Regions from separate parts of the Homo sapiens genome. Here region 2 is linked to region 1. Evidence: fine-mapped expression QTL. Tissue or cell type: whole blood. Region 1 holds a variant in brackets; the other region holds the start of a gene. All regions are shown on one strand. Distances are between the middles of the regions.

Region 1 (8,113 bases):
TGAGGTTTATATTCTCACATGTGTTCATGATAGTTATCATTTTTTCATTTACAGCTGTAGCACTCCTGTAAACATTGCTTGTAAGGCTGGTGTAGGAGTGAATTCCCTCAGCTTTTGTTTGTCTGGGAAGGCCTTTATTCTCCTCCAGGATAGTTTTGCTGGATATAGTATCTTTTGTCCTTGGCCGAGACTCGTTTTTTTTTGTTCTTTTAGCATCTTGAATAAATTATCCCTTTCTCTCCTGGCATACATCAGTAATTTAATGTTACTGATGAGAAATCTACTGATAGTCTAATTAGGATTCCCTTACATGTAACTTGATGCTTTTCTCTTGCAGATTTTAGAATTCTCTGTCTTCAACTTTTGACAGTTTGACTATAATGTGCCACAGAGAGAATCTTTTTGGGTTTAATCTAATTGGGAATCTTTGTGGTTCCTTCATCTGGATGTCTATATCTCCCCCAATATTTGGGAAGTTTTTAGCTATTATTTCATTAAATAGGTTTTCTGTGCCTTTCTTCAACTTTTCTCCATCTGCCAGTTCTATAATGCAAAAATTTCTTTGCTTAGTTTTTTTTAAACTTTGGGTTATTTCACAAAACCTATTTTCAGATTTTGAAATTCTTTCTTCTGCTTGATCTGGTCTATTCTTGAAGCTCTCGATTGTGTCTTTTATTCACTGCATTCTTCAGATTTCTGTGTTTTAAATGATAGATCTTGTTTTAATTTCTCATTTTATAACTTTCCTGATTTCATTGGGTTGTTTGTATTCTCTTGTAGCCTGCTGAATTTTTTTAAGATCATTATTTTTAATTTTGTTTCAGGCATTTTATAAACACCCTTTTCTTTGGGGTCTGTTACTAGAGACTCACTGTGTTCCTTTGGCAGTGTCGTGTGTCCTTGCTTTTTCATGTTTCTTGTGACATCTGCACATCTAGTGGAATAGTCACATTTTCCAGTTGTATGCAGTAGCTTTCACAGGGAGAGACTTTTCCTGTAGATGGGTCCTAGAGTGTTGGTTGGGTATGGTACATTGGCTTTGGTTTGGGGTGGATTCAGTACCATGGTCTCTGTGTAGTTTCGTCAGCTGTAATCTTCACAGCAATGTCTGATTTCCTCAGTGGCCTAGGCTGCAGGAGTTTTTGATGGTGGTATAGTTTTGCTAGGGACAGGCATGTCATGCTAGTTGTCAGGCTGGACACTTGCAGGCTCGGAGGGCTGACAAGCTGTCTTTTGGGCTCCCCAGGGAAGAGAAAGTATGATTTTCCAGCTTTTCTTCTATGTTTATTTAAAACTTTGTTGTCTGGCTCACAGTGTTCTTTATCTAAAGTCTAGCCAGTGGTGGTGGTCATATTGCAATCATTATTACAGCTTCAGACTTTCTAGACCTTTTCCATTTTAGTGACCTTCAGCCTTCATTCGCTTCCATTCATGACCACAGAATAGATGTAGTCATCTCTATTGAAGGCAAACCCATCCCATCTCTTCAGCTTCATCTAGAAATTTGTTTCATCTGTTACACTTTCTTTCTTTGGTTTTTAGCCTTCATTCTCTACCAGCTCTTTCACTTAAGCAGAGATATGTTCAAGACTCTCCCATTCTAACAGTTCCCTGCCTTGATCCTACAAGCTTTTCTCTTTAGCTGCTACCTTGCTTTTTATTTTTATTTTTTTCTCACTTGCTCTGATAATCTCCTAGAAAAATTGGCTTACTCTGACCATCTCCATTAGTTCACCTCTTAATTATTCTTCAACCATCTGAGACCTGGCTTTGTTCTTTCTCTACTGAAACTCTTCAGGCAGAGATTAGCAGAAGTCTTCTAATTGCTCAATGAAGTGGAAATTTTCAGTCCTTATTTTCTGTATTTCTCCTTCATTTGACTTTGACTTAACTCTCTTGGTTTTTGTAATACCACCAGCACCTAGTTTATCAGTCTCTCATGGGAACTTCATTCTATCTGCCTGCCAAATGGTGGAGTCCCAAGGACTGTGGTCTGATCTGCTGTTCCTCATTACATGCTTTCTGGTCAGTATTGCACACTGTGGTTCTCATCTACCATCATCTACCTCCAGAAGTGCCATATATTTAGTAAGTTTACAAGAAAAGCAACTTTCCTTGCTCCGTAGACTAACTCTGATCTTTTGTTCCCTATCATGGTTATGGAACTCACTAATTATTCAGCATCAGCTGTCAGAATGTTTAACTTTGCTATTTAGGTTTGTGTAAGTTATGGGACAATAACTAGGATAACTAGAATTAGCTTGTAGCTTATGTGGGTTAGATAATACAATTGCATATGTAAGTAGTGAATATTTTGGCTTAATAAGTGAAGGAGTATTTAGGAAGCTATCTGGAATGTTATCTAAGTCAGGATTCTGAAGGTAACTCTAGCCTCACTGTCCCTTACTCACTATTTCTAAACACCCACCAATCCTGCCTACTTTATTTACTTGGTATTTCTCCAATCTGCCATCCTTCTCTGTCCGACCAATCACTACCCTAGCTCAGGCCTTCAAAGTCTCTCACTTGACCTACTCCTTCACCTCCTTTGAACCTGTGCACAAATGTTAGCTTCTTAGTAAGGCTTTCTCTGGTCACCTGTATAAAATTCCCATCTGCTACATACTTCCTGGTTCCCTGTATTGCCTTATATTCCTCAGTGGCATTTATCTCCTTGTATACTATATAATTTCTGATCTCTGTCCTTTCTATTACCACCCCACTTCAAGATGGCAAGGATTTGTCTGTTATATTAGTGACTGTCCTAATAGGAAAAAAAATGGCACATTTATATTAGAGTAACTTGAGAAGAATTTTTAAAAGTCAGTATTTATAAAGCTGTAGATATAGAGATAGTGAAGTACTCTTGGGACTAGTAATCATTGGGCAGGTGATACCATTTTTAAGCCCAAAAGGGCATAGTGAAAGAGCAGGTGCCTGAACCTGGATTCAGAGAGACTATGTAGAGGAGGCCACTAGGCAGGAGCTGTGGCCTTTGCCTCAGCTTGGCTGATTACCTCACTAATCCTCACTAATCCTAAATTACCCAAGTTCCTTCTTTTCTGGCCCATTTCACAGTCCAAAGCCAACTTTAAGCCAGAGGGCAAGGGGAGCACTTGATGCAGTCCATGCAGTATGGCCTCCCAGTGAACAGGGCAGGTGGAGGATAGAAACTAAATCTAGATGGAGGAGAGGGAAGATATTCAGAATATGTTTTTTCTTTACTGTCAGCACCTTGAAGAGTGCCTGGCATATAGATAATATTTATTGAATGAATGAATTTGTTACTGGTTTACTGGCCTCATGAACTTTAGTTTTGCCTATTCTATTATAACTTGGTGACTACATTCCTATATACTTGATACCAACTCCTCATTAACTACAAAGGCAGTATTCCCCTCTCCCCCTTTTTAAACATCAAAACTCTTTTTTAAAAAAAATTCTTAAATGAATCGCCAGTATATAACACATAAAAGTATGGGTGCCTTGATTGGAGTGGTGGGTAAATGATCCTGAGTCTGTCTGTTTGGGTTCCCTCTTTGCCTAGCAGGAATGTGACTGTCTTGTTTAAAGCCCACTGAAGTAGAAAACAGGATGAGAGACACACTCTTCAACATGGCATAAGATTTCCATGCTTGGCTCCTGCCTATCTCTGCATCCTCATTTCTCAGTAGTTTCCTCATATTTTACCATCCTGTAATTGAAAGAATTACAAAACTAGTTCTCTACACAAGCTTTCTTGCTGTTCCAGCTGCTGGGAATTAGCTTCCTTTGTGCTTTTTTTTATTTGAATGATTCATGTTTACATTCATTAAAATTAATGAAGATTCATTACAGTTGTTTTCTCTTTAGGCATAATTGGATCTCCTATACTGAGACATTGAATGCAACTTTGATTGTTTTTTTCCCCCATTATATGTTAAGCTCCTTGAGGTTCTTTTCAACTTTGCGTTATTCCAGGATTTCTATCGTAAGAGTTAAGGTTCATCCACTTCTCTGATGTGAGGTTCATGGCAGGAAGGTTCC[A/C]TGTTGCTCAGCTGCAGAGTAGAAAATACTGAGCAGGGCTTAAATAGATTAGGATGCTGCCATTATAATATAAACTGTGTTTACGAAAGAGCATCATCAATTCAGAAAATATCTTTTTCATTGACTACAGTGGTGCCTGATGATCTTTCTATTACAATCTTAAATTATGGTCATTTTAATTATAGAATCATACATGGGTTTATTTATGTTAAAATAAGGTAATTATCAAGCTAGCTGTGACCTATGAGAAAAATCCTGAAGAAATGATGAAGGGATCAGGTGACTGTTTTTGAAGTCAAGTGTGAAAGGTCAGACCACTCTGGGTCATGGGACCCTGCCAAGGCAGAGCAGGTCAAGTGCTGTGCCCAGTGGGGCCAACCCCCAGTATGGTGCCAGGGACTGGGTGTGAGAAGTCAAAAATTAAGAATACACCTCAGAAAGGGGACATGGACAGATGCCACAGACTTATTTGCGTATTTCATGATTTAGCCCTTAGCTTGTGCTGATACTGGATCAGATATTTTCAGAGTTCAGTATTTTCAAAAGCATCGCTGATCACCTGTTGGCATTGTTTTACATCTCAACCAAGGAAAAACTTTTGGGACATCTGTTTAACAAGGGGTAAGCTTTTATTTGAAATGTTCGATTAAAGCAGAAGAGTCAGGCATTTTTTTGTGCCTCCCCAAAGAAAGATTTGTTTACTGTCCTGTGTGAATAAATATAATGTCATTATTTCCCGTAAAGGAAAAGCTGATGGGGAGAGTAAGTAATGGGTAAGATTAGGCAATGTTAAGCTCATATATTAGTATGTTTAAGAGTGATCAATTTAGGGATCTCTGTGACAGAGATGCCAAATGCTCACAGTGCTATCTCATGTTGGAAACATGTGTCTCCTCCACTTTTCCTCAGTCCTCTGAAATGACGGCCCTTTAGGGATTGACAGATACTATACAGATTTCTGTGCTGATATGTGATTTGTCTAAAACAAAAGTTTCACAAAACAATTCTTACCATTGCCATTTAAGAGTCACTCTGATATGCTCTGTTTCCATTGCAAACAAATGCTCATTATGATTTGTGAAATTAACTTCACAATTTCCTAATGGATAACACCTTGAAGTATGAAAAGCACTACAGGATCTTTTATAGCTTCCCTCCTCCAGCTCTCTATAATCTGCTCCCATCTGTGGTGTAGGAAAGATTTCAGCAGTGGCCGCTGAAGGCCCTAAGATCTTGTCTCAACAGATAGCAAGGTGCATAACAGACTTTGGACAGGTTGTTTAACATGTCTGAGTTACTGTTTATTCACTGGCAAAATGAAGGGCTTATATTATATTGTCTCTAAGTACTATCAGTTCTGACCACCTATGAACTTTCATTTTAAAGAAAATACCTATTTCTATGGCCTTTAGGCATTAGGGAATTTTGTCAAATTAAATAAATCTCAGTAAGGTTTGATGGTCAATGGGGCCCACTGTCTGGTGTGTGTGGAGGGGTGTTGTATTTTACATCAGGAACTTCAGAGCCCTCATGAATTTCTAATTAGAGGAACCACCTGGGAAATATAAGTCAAAGCCCTTTGCTCGCCTTACTCAGCTTTAGGGCACAGTGACTAGAGGTGGGCAATCGCTTTGGTGTAGGTATTGTCATTGGAAAGGAAGAAACCATTTTCTGGAGGAAAAGAATTGGTTGAGGCTAGCTTTAAGCAGCTATTTCATGATGGACAAAAGGACTAGCTCATCCATTCTTCATTCGTTTCTCTGTATCCTCTATCAAATTTCTGAGTAAAGATTTTATACAATGCTTGATTAGCATTCAAATAGTATGTTTCAAAGATTTTAAAAAAAATAAAACTAGGCCTTTGAATCATAATTATGGCTTATAACTCTATTTTTCATATACTTACTATCTCAAGTTACAAATTTCATGTTATGTTTTTTTCAAAAGAGTATTCCTGCCACAACTCAGAGCTCAGCTGAATTAGAGCAGTGACTAGAAAATCTGAGAAGGCTGAGCTTCAAAATAAGGTCTGGAAAGTGTTTCTTATTGTTACAAGAGAGTCAAAATGATTTTCTTGAGCTTTAAGTTTATGTAAGTATTTACTTGACACTTAGCAGTTTAAAAGATAATGTGCAAAAATATGAAAATGAGAAAAAACAATTTCAAAACAAGAGTTGGTGATTACGTGAGACTTAGTAGAGCAAAGTATATTCTAAGTATTAATCTGTCTAAGCTGTTTGGGAACAGATGTACGTGAAATGGATACCGGGTGTTCTGTTGTGTACACCCCAAGTGAGACATCTGTTGGTAGACTGTGTGGTCAGAAATAATGGAAGCAGGGGTTAAACCCCAATATGACCTATTACTCATGTGAATTATTGAAGGACTAATTACTCAGTAAAACATGATGCTTTGATTCATCAGTCTACACGTTAAGAAAAAAGCCTCTTTAGAAAAAAATTTAGTTCTGTTTCTAAGCTGTCAAATTTGAGGAAATTTTTAAGATGTATGCAAAGACTCAAATTTCCATAGTAACTGCAAATACTATCTGCTTATAAAGTTTTAAAATGTTTTGACAGGTCTACTAATTTATCATAAAAATAGCCTCAAAAGTTTTAGCTTTTTGTTAGGGTAGGTTGGGTCTCACAGAAAACAAATGTAGAGTGAATTTTCTAAAGCAGGGCTGTCCAGTTAGACTTCCTGAAATGATGGGAGTGCACTATATCTGAAGTGTTCAATACAGTTACCACCAGCTACATGTGGCTATTGAACAGAAACATGGCTAGTGTGACTGAGAAACTGAATTTTTAATTATATTTAATTTTTATTAATTTGAATTCAATAACTGCATGTAGCAAGTGGCAACTGCATTGTACAACACAGCTCTGACACATGGAGAGTTGAAAATGTTTGTTTACTTTCTTCCCAAGTTTTCATTTTAGTCTTTGTTTCTACATAGAAAGGAAGATATAGCTTTTGAAAAATGAACCTGAATGTAGAACTGATATGGTTATGCAATTTGAGCTGCCTATTTAAAGATAAAGCAACTGAGTTTAGAGATTTCAAAGTGGCAGAGTCCTTTAACATATTTCGTGGGCTGGCCACGGTAGCTCATACCTGTAATCCTAGTACTTTGGGAGGCTGAGATGGGAGGATTGCTTGAGCCCAGGAGTTCGAGGCCAGCCTGGGCAACATAGCAAGACCCCATCTCAGGGAAAAAAATATGTGTATATATATGTATATATATATATATATATATATATATATATATATATATATATGCATACACATATATACATATATACACACATATATTAACATATTTTGTGTGTACAAAAAATATTTTTATTATGTGTAGATTAGTTGGTTACTAGTAAAGTTGAAGTCTTGTCTATAGAAATCATTGTATTTTTCATGGTCATTGTGATACATTGTTTGAACTGAAATTTGGCAAATTCAATCTGTTTCTTACTACAAGAATAGTACATAGATTTGAAATGGTAACTCTCTTAGTCTGTGTACTCTGACCCTGTGAACGTCTGGAGACTAATGTTATTCCTAAATATGCTATGTCCACATGGCAGCATCTGAAGGCAAACACTTTTTAAAACTGATCTACTTTTGTGGACCCTTCCTCTCTCTCTTTCCTGCATCCCGGATGGGGCCCTCTGGGGCTGGAACTGGCACAGAACTATTCCCCTAGGAGTGGGTTCATTGAAGCCAAGGGACACACAAATTGAGAATCAGATAGACTGGACCAAGGTCATTAAACCAGAGAGGGCAATCCAGATGGGGTTGTCCAAAGTAGGAAGTTCTGAAGTGAATTGCAGAAATCCAAACATGGCAAAGCTAAAGGAATAGAGAACCAGGGCAATGGATATAGAGAACAGAGCAATTGGGTATGCAGGAAGATGCTATTGCCTAGACTGGATGTTTTTGTACCCTCTGTAATTTGAGAAAATGGACCGTCCTTGTTGAAATGGTCAGGGATGTAGTAGATAAATTCATTGCAGTTGTGTAATCTCAGCACTAGAATACTGATCATAACCATATCACTTGTTATCCCACCTAGCCTGCCACTTGATTG
Region 2 (8,113 bases), 250 kb before region 1:
CTTCTCTTACCCTTGAGTGTACTACTGCTTTGTTCATCCAGTGAGGCTCCCAAAGGTGTACTGAAACCATATAAACGTATAAGCCTTAGTCTTGTGAAAGGCTATTTGGAAAGTTGTCATTACACAGCCTTACTTAAAGAGTTACAGCTCAATAAGCTTCTAATCACAGTTAAACTCTCCTCCAAAAACACACAAGGAATGCAAGTAGATTACATAAGTAATATTCACTAACTAAGCAAATACCTGCCATCAGGTCAGTTCAGCAGGAATGATTTAATCATGTCTGATGTGCTAACAATTAGGGGCAAAAATGGCAATGACAAATGATTTGAATTGGCATTTTTCTTTGCAAAAAAGAGAGAATGACTGACAATAAGCATTAAGAAAATGTCTGTTCTTCTCAACCCCTTCCATCAAAAAAGAAAACAGAATTAGAAGAAAACAAATCTTCAGTCATAGGTAACTTAACCTTAATAAAATTAAAAAGTGAAGAGTAGTTGGAAATGAGGCCCAATAGTTTCCTTAAACCTCATCTGTTAATCTATCACTAGCATTTCAGAGCATCACCTAATGCCTCCCCCTTGCCCCAACAACTATCTTTTTATGTAAATGTAGAAGCTTGAGATTCGCTTTGTTTTTAAGCTAAAAAATATATATATTCTTCATTTAACTTTGAAAATTACTAAAAAGTTGACTTGAGAATCAACATTAAGATTAGCCATTGCTAAAATTTTTTCATTCTTGTAGTTCAAATACAGATGAGAGAAATATCTTTTTTTCAAATACAAAAATAAACACTTTTAATTCTCTGAAACCAAGTTATAGTAAGAAACACATTGTTTTATATTGGAGGGTCTGTTTTGTGATGCACACCTTTCTTCAGTAACAATTTATAGCTGTTAAAAATTCACGAGACATGGGATCAATCATGAAAATATCAGTTTCAAGGAAATGTTACTGAAATGCCAATTAAAGGTTAAAACTTTCTACAAGTATACTAACAATGGCAGCTCTTTAAAACTTAGTGCTTTTGAAACGTAAAAGAATCACAAGCAATTACCATAAATATATTAATAAAAGCTTTAATCTATTTTTTGCATATATTTTAATAAAATTCTAATGTATGTCTTTAAAAAGTCATCCTTCCCTGATGGCTACTTTCTTGGATGTAAACATTGTATTACTCTGTCCACAGATGTCTCTACTGGTCTATGCACTAACAGAAAATGGTAGATAAGCAGAGTAACAGGAATCCTCCTTCGAAAACAAATATCTTACTTTTATAGTTGCTCCCTTCCAAATTCTATCAAAATCTCTACCATTTCTTAAATGTTAATTCAAGCAGTTTTTACTTAGTCCCCCCACAAATGGTTATCAAAATAAAGACTCCCTTTAAGGAAAGAAAACACGGTATCTTTATTCAGGATATGGACGGCACTAAGAAACAAAGACTATTTGAGAACTTATCAAGTGGGTAAAATGCTGTCTTCAGGTCATTTGTACATAATAAACAAAATACATAGATGCCCAACTCTGAGAAGGAACTTGAGTTGTTATTTAAAACAAAAATACAGATGCAACATATCCTAAGTCGAATCTGTGATAATATAGCCAAGATTAAAAGACTACTTGTTCTAGCTTTCCTGGATACAAATGAATGCCACTCTTGTGTAGAATAGGTGCAACTGTAGGAACAAGAAGGTAATCCATGAGAGAAGGAGCAGCAGACTACAGAATCTGCCCACATAAATCAGTATTGGCAACAAAACTTCTGAAATTGTCAGGGATTGACTGTGCCCTGGTGAATGTCAACATTTGCCTACTGCATTTGTCTCAAAAAAGATGCACTTATTTACTGTCTAATTGATAGGATCTCTTATACAATCTTAAATCCTATATGTCATTAAACTATAGTGTGATTCTTCTCTTGTTCTTAATTTTTAAAATTCTTTTGAATATGCACTTGAATTTAAACAATAAAACATTATAAATGTATTTGTAATGCTAAGCCTATTTTAAGAAACCTAAAGTAAGCCAATACTGTACTTAGGACTGTATTTAAATAAAGAGTCAGATTGGAGGCTTTAAAGGACTTAAGTAAAAGTTACAAAACAACTTCTCAAACACATTTCTAAGTGGAAACCTGAAAGATACTAGTTTTATCAGATCTCACCCAAAAGGTCTTGAACATGTACATTCAAAATTTCAAGCTTTTACATTATAGACTATTTTAGTATTTAACAATTAAATGAACCAATAGCACATTAATACAATTTCTTGATCCATACTTTGAGTGAAGTATCTAATATCTAAGGCTTATCTGAAAACTGGGAGATTGATTTACAGCTAGATTGTAAATCTGGGGTCCAAGGACTTCAAGCAGTGTATTTGCCTCTGTGCATCTTTAAACAGAAGTTATTCCATATATGTCATCATATTTCAGAAGGGTCTATGACACTTCCAATAAAGGGTACGAGTTCTGTAATAAAGAGTGTTCAATAAGGTTCCAGTCGATTCATCAAAACAAGGCATTAATATCATGGTAGCCAATATCTTGTCTGTCTTTAGAGGAGGCAAACTGGCATATGAATCACTTTCCACAACAAAACAAAACAAACTACCCTAACTCTAATATTTGAACAAAATATTAAGAAAATCTAAATTGAGAAAGCAAAAATATGCTCGAAAGCAAACACCAACAAAAGTTTAAAGGCTACATTCCTGATTTTACAACTAGCAAAGTGGAATAAGAAACAAGTACATTTTGCTGTAGTCAGATTTACGTGCAACATGATTCATCTCCTCTGTATTTTATCAAACATTTTTGTACCAGTTGCCAAAGCATGTAATTAAACAGATTTATGCAGTCTGAATGCTTTTAAAAGTTCTATTCCCTGAGAATTCCAGTGCCATCTGACAATTCCATGTTCAAGAAGTAAACTATAAGTACAAAGTTAGCTAGTTTTAATAGCTCCCCAAACAGAAACAAAATTAAAGCCCATTTAGTGTAGTTAGGTAAATTAAACTCGTCTAAAACACATTTGAAAGGAAAATGATTCCGTGCCAGTTGTACAGATGCCAAAACTAAAGCAAAACAAAATATCCTGTTCGAGATGTGAGAATTCTTTCAAATAAAAACAGAACAAATATGGCATGATTATCTGTTCTGGATTTCTGATCTCTGATGCTAACACGATGCGTGAGTAGCTCAAGTCCTAACTGTAAAGTCAACACGGTCACCAAATAATCAGCGGTCACAGCACTTCCATTTCTAATCGCTTAGAGGAGGAAGCTATCCGCCGGCTCACTTTCCGGTTTGTAGCTTACAACGGTCGCGGGACCCACAGGGACGCGGCCCGAGTGGCTCTGCTCCGGCGTCCCGTCCGCACGGATCTCCCCCGGGACGCGGGCGGACCAGGGAGCACTCACCGGCAGTCCTTGAGCCATATCGCGATCTTCTCGTTGGGCACGTTTCCTGGGGGTAGAGAGAGGGGACAGCACGTTACCACCCAGGAGCACTACGACGGCGGAGTCACCCTGGACCCTCCCAAGTAGGAAAATCTACCACGGCAAATGCAGCCTAAGCGACACGTCTCAGTGTCCCTTGGCAGGGAAATCGGATGGCACCCAGTTGTCTGTGTTGACGCTGGGGGCGCCTCGTTCAGCGCGCGCGTTTGAAGGTCGGAAGTGTCCCCTCTCCCCTCGGCCTACCGTGCCCGAGGCTCTCCCAGAACTCGTGGCAGGCGCCCAGGGCGCACGAGACTCTCCCCAGCCCACCAGCCTCCCCCCGGAGCCCGGCCGGGAGCACCGACCTCTTCCCCCCGCTGCCGGCAGCTGCGCGCCGGGGAGGTCCTCCTCCTCGTCCTCCTCCTCGTCCTGCGTCGTCGCTTCTGTGGACAGATCCTCCGTCTCCGACGCTTGCCAGGAGCTGCGGCACTTGGCCCAGGCCTTCCTCCTGCGACTCGCCACTTGCCACTCCAGTTCCTCCTCCGCCTCCGCCGACGACGACAGGGGCCGGTCCATGGCCGCACTGGGGGCTCCGCTACCCCAGCCGGACCCTGCGCGAGACAAGGCGGCGGCAGGGACCCCCGCCCTTGCTGTCAGCGCCCGGCCGGGCAGGGGGCCCCGGGGAGCTGAAGCGGGCGCCGGAGGAGGAGGAGGAGGAGGAGGGGACAGGGAGGGAGGGAGGGAAGGAAGGGGAGGGAAGGGGCGGAGGGCCGGCGCTTCACATGAAGGCGGCCGGGCGCGCGCGGGAGCGCTAGTGGCCCGAGGGAGCGCGGCTGGGAGCCGAGCGCCCGCCCGGCCCCTGCTCCCCACCCCCTGCCTGACGCGCCCGGAGCAGGCCGGCCGCTGCGCGTCTGCGCGCCTTCCCTCGGCGGCGGCCCACGCCCCCTTCCGGCCGGGGCCGCGCGGGGCGCGGTAGGGCGGGGCGCGCCCGGCGCGACGCGGAGCAGGCCAGCCCCCGACTACTGCCCGCGGAATGGGCAAGATTAGTTTGTTAATAATCTTTCCTCCTCTCCTCCTCCTCCTCCCTCACCTAAAAATAGAACGTAAGTGGGGAGGCCAAGTCTCACAAAACATCCCCCGCGAGAAAACAAGTGTCTGCTTGGGCACCCTGAAACATACACTTGAAAGAGTCGCCTGAATATAGACTCTTTAGTGTCCAAGGAATTGGGGTAAGGACGGAAAGAGGTGCTTGATTGGTGTTGCCAAAATGTAAAAACTGCAAAAGACTAAGCTTCCTGGAGTGCTACTTTCATACTTAAAGTTATTTATCGTGTTTATGTTATGAATGAAAATGAATTGTGAAAGGATATTTAATCTGGAAATTTCACATTGAAGTTGGACTTTGGTGAGGGAGAATAGAGGAAACAATTGGGACAATGTGGAGATAGTTGCTTGGATTTTGGTGAGACAGCATGATACAAGAAACAAATGATGTCAGGGTTCAAAACTTTTTAAAGCCAGCTTTGGCATTCCGTTTTGTTATGTTTAAATTCTCATTAGCAAAAATACTCAAATTCTATCCAAAACCAGACACAATGTGACAGACCTATCAAGCAGCATTGTTCCCCTAAATGTTACATCTGAACTATACATATAAGTAAGGCTTCCAATATTTTATTGTACTTGGCTATGCTCTGAAGAACAAGTTAGAACACTTTTTAAAATCTTAACGTGATTGAAAAGAATATTTTGCGTAGACAAAATATTTTAAGGAAGGAATTATTTTTCATTTGAAATTAAAATCCAGAGCATAGTAAAATTCCTAATGGAAGCATTCGAATTACAAGGTAATTAAGTGCATTGTCATTGATAGCTACAGGAAACCATAACTTTTGGAGAATTTGGAATGAAGAATGCTCTGGAGATGAAATAGTGCCTAGTTTTTGTCCAGGCATTTACACATAAGTCATAGACTACTAAAATAGCACACTGATTTTCCTGCCTTCATTCTTTCCTATCTCCTTTCTAGCGCATTGCTCTAGATTTACAATTCCAAGACATCTTCTAATGGTTTACTAATATCCCCAAGATCAAATCCAAAATCCAGACTAGCTTTCCAGAACCATCATAATATTCTCCTGAGTCTCATCTATGTACTGCCAAATGTCAGGGGAGTTAGAACAGTGATATTAATATCTCTATGGCTTGAAATTTCACTACTAGAAAATCTTTTCTTTGAACCTATAAGACTTTCTCAGCCTTCAAGGGTCCTGTAGTAGGATGCAGCTAACAGTTTAATGGCTCTCCAAAATAGGTCAGAGTCTCGCTGCCTGTGTGGAAGATGAAAAAGAGAATGAATAAAGAAGGTACCTAAGAAGAAGCATTGAAAGGGCTGGTCAAGTGCCACAAAATATGCTGCCTTCAAAGTTTTATCCAGGGTTCTTACGTATCCACCCTGTTCCTCTGCTGCTCCCAGCTTCAATTCTATCATATCTAAGTGCTGTTGCCTACTCTGTCTTTGCTAATTAATTCATTCCTGTTCTTTCTGTCCACTACCTTCATGACTTTCAAAATCTAGCTAAGCCAGAACTTTTTGACTCCACCATTCCACCACTCCTGATCACACCCCTCCCACAGGGATCTGATATACAACAGCATGTCTATGTCATTTATTTGGGGACTGGATTGTAGAGTAAATAATATGACTGGCCCTGGAAGGTATGTTTGGCTTACTAGCCAGATTGTAAATTGTGAGAGATGATAGAACATTCTTCAGTATTCTTGCACCCCTTACACTTTTAAATGCTGATCCCACAAGGGATAATGGGTCTTCTTGAGGTAGTTTCTGTTTTCTGTGTTCTTCAAAGAGACACCTAAATTGATTATTTTAAAATTTGCTTCATGTTATTTCTATAATGCTTATATTTTATTTAGGTTTGCAGTTGTTTAAATACACTTTCAGATGACAACAACAAAGAATTCTTGTGAAAGGCAATAATTAACCATAGTTTAAAAAAAAATCAAACAACCAGAGTCAAGTAATAAGGGGGAAAAATTACCAGCAGGTAACAAAGTAGAATATATACATTATTCAGTTTCCGGTAGCACAAATGTGTGCTTTCTTCTACATGGCATTTTTTAATGAAATATGTTGAGGGTATAGAAGTAATAGAGAAGGAAATCCTTGAAGTAGTATGCTATTGCCTTGAAAAGTAAGGTTTTTTCATTGTATTCTCAACTTTTACAGATGTTTTAAAATGCCCAAGGTATTTCATTTATTCGATAATGAATACTACACATGAAGAAAGTCTGCATGTTTGCTTCTTCGAGGATTTTCTCCCAAACAAGTACTATCTTGTACACCAACTGCAAATATACATTGCGAAGCTCTACATAAAGAGTATTGTCTGGGCCAGGCATGGTGGCTCACACCTGTAATCCCAGCACTTTGGGAGGCTGAGGCGGGGCAGATCACCTGAGGTCAGGAGTTTGAGACCAGCCTGACCAACATGGAGAAACCCTGTCTCTACTAAAAATACAAAATTAGCCATGCATGGTGGCGAATGCCTGTAATTCCACCAACTTGGGAGGCTAAGGCAGGAGAATAGCTTGAACCCAGGAGGCAGAGGTTGCGGTGAGCTGAGATTGTGCCATTGCACTCCAGCCTGGGCAAAAAGAGTGAAACGCTGTCTCAAAAAAAAAAAAAAAAAAGAGTATTGTCTGAATCAATGATGTTTGCAAGGTGGAAAAAGAAAGAAATGTATATTAAATGTGGATAATTCCATCCAGCATGACATAGTGGAAGCAACGTGGTCTTTGGTGTTAGACTGAAGTTTGAAATGTTTCCCTCTTTTTCTAGCTGTATGGTATAAGGCAAGACAGCTAATATCCCAAGGCCATGACTTTTCTCATCTTTGAAATAGCAATCATGATAACTACCTTCCCAAATTGATGTGAATCTCACAAGAAATAATGTAGGTGCTCAGTATAGCTATTAGAATGATTATATTGCAGAAAGCAAAAAATAAATCAATTTCATATGGGGGAATAATTCTCATATTAGCAAATGGCATCTATCATCATGCTTATGCAGCTGTATTTTAAAATTGGCATAAGTTCAGGCAAAGATAGAAAACGTATACTTTGGTTAAATCAGGCAGTTTTATATGGGAAAGCATGAATCATAAGGGAAACATTGTTCTTGGTTTAATTAGATATTTAAAATTGCAAAACAAGATTTACTATTGGGTAGGCTAAGCCATTTTGGTTGTAGTTATGGTATTGTTTCTTTAATAATATTTATATGCTCAAAAATTGTATTTTGTGCATCAAAATCTTAATTATTTAGAATCTGATTAGAGAGTGGTAGAGTTGCAGTTATTTCTTCAAATTCTCATCTTTTGTTAAGACAAAAGGGGCCTCAGAGGTATAAGGTTAAGTAGAATATCAGGTTAAATGAACAAAGTAGCATTTTATATTTTGATAGTATTGCCTGGAGAAAAAAATTCTATATAAAATAAGAATGGAAAACACTGCATATTATACCCCCTCCTCTTCCTCCACCCCAGCCCAGTCACAATGAATGTTAAAGACTTGAGACGTCTTCAAAACTTGTTTTTTAAAACTTTAATTTTTTAAACCCAATAGTTATAAAATTTATTTCAAC

The links. PIP is the estimated chance that this variant, and not a neighbour inherited with it, causes the effect.
Region 2: it holds the start of ITPRID2, and the variant in region 1 is fine-mapped to the expression of ITPRID2 in whole blood (TOPMed, PIP 0.90).

The regions. Positions count from the first base shown.
Region 1 is chr2:181,640,497-181,648,609 of GRCh38, reverse strand. The region is part of intron 1 of CERKL (CERK like autophagy regulator); the gene reads left to right. Among named protein-coding and RNA genes, the nearest start is that of CERKL, 13 kb to the left of the region's middle. The variant A/C (reference allele first, on the strand shown) is at 4,027.
Region 2 is chr2:181,887,977-181,896,089 of GRCh38, reverse strand. ITPRID2 (ITPR interacting domain containing 2) reads right to left here and starts at 4,360. Exons shown (of 18, transcript NM_001130445.3): 1 at 3,813-4,360; 2 at 3,430-3,475; 3 at 11-60. The coding sequence starts at 4,023. RefSeq lists silencers at 3,724-3,863, 4,154-4,483.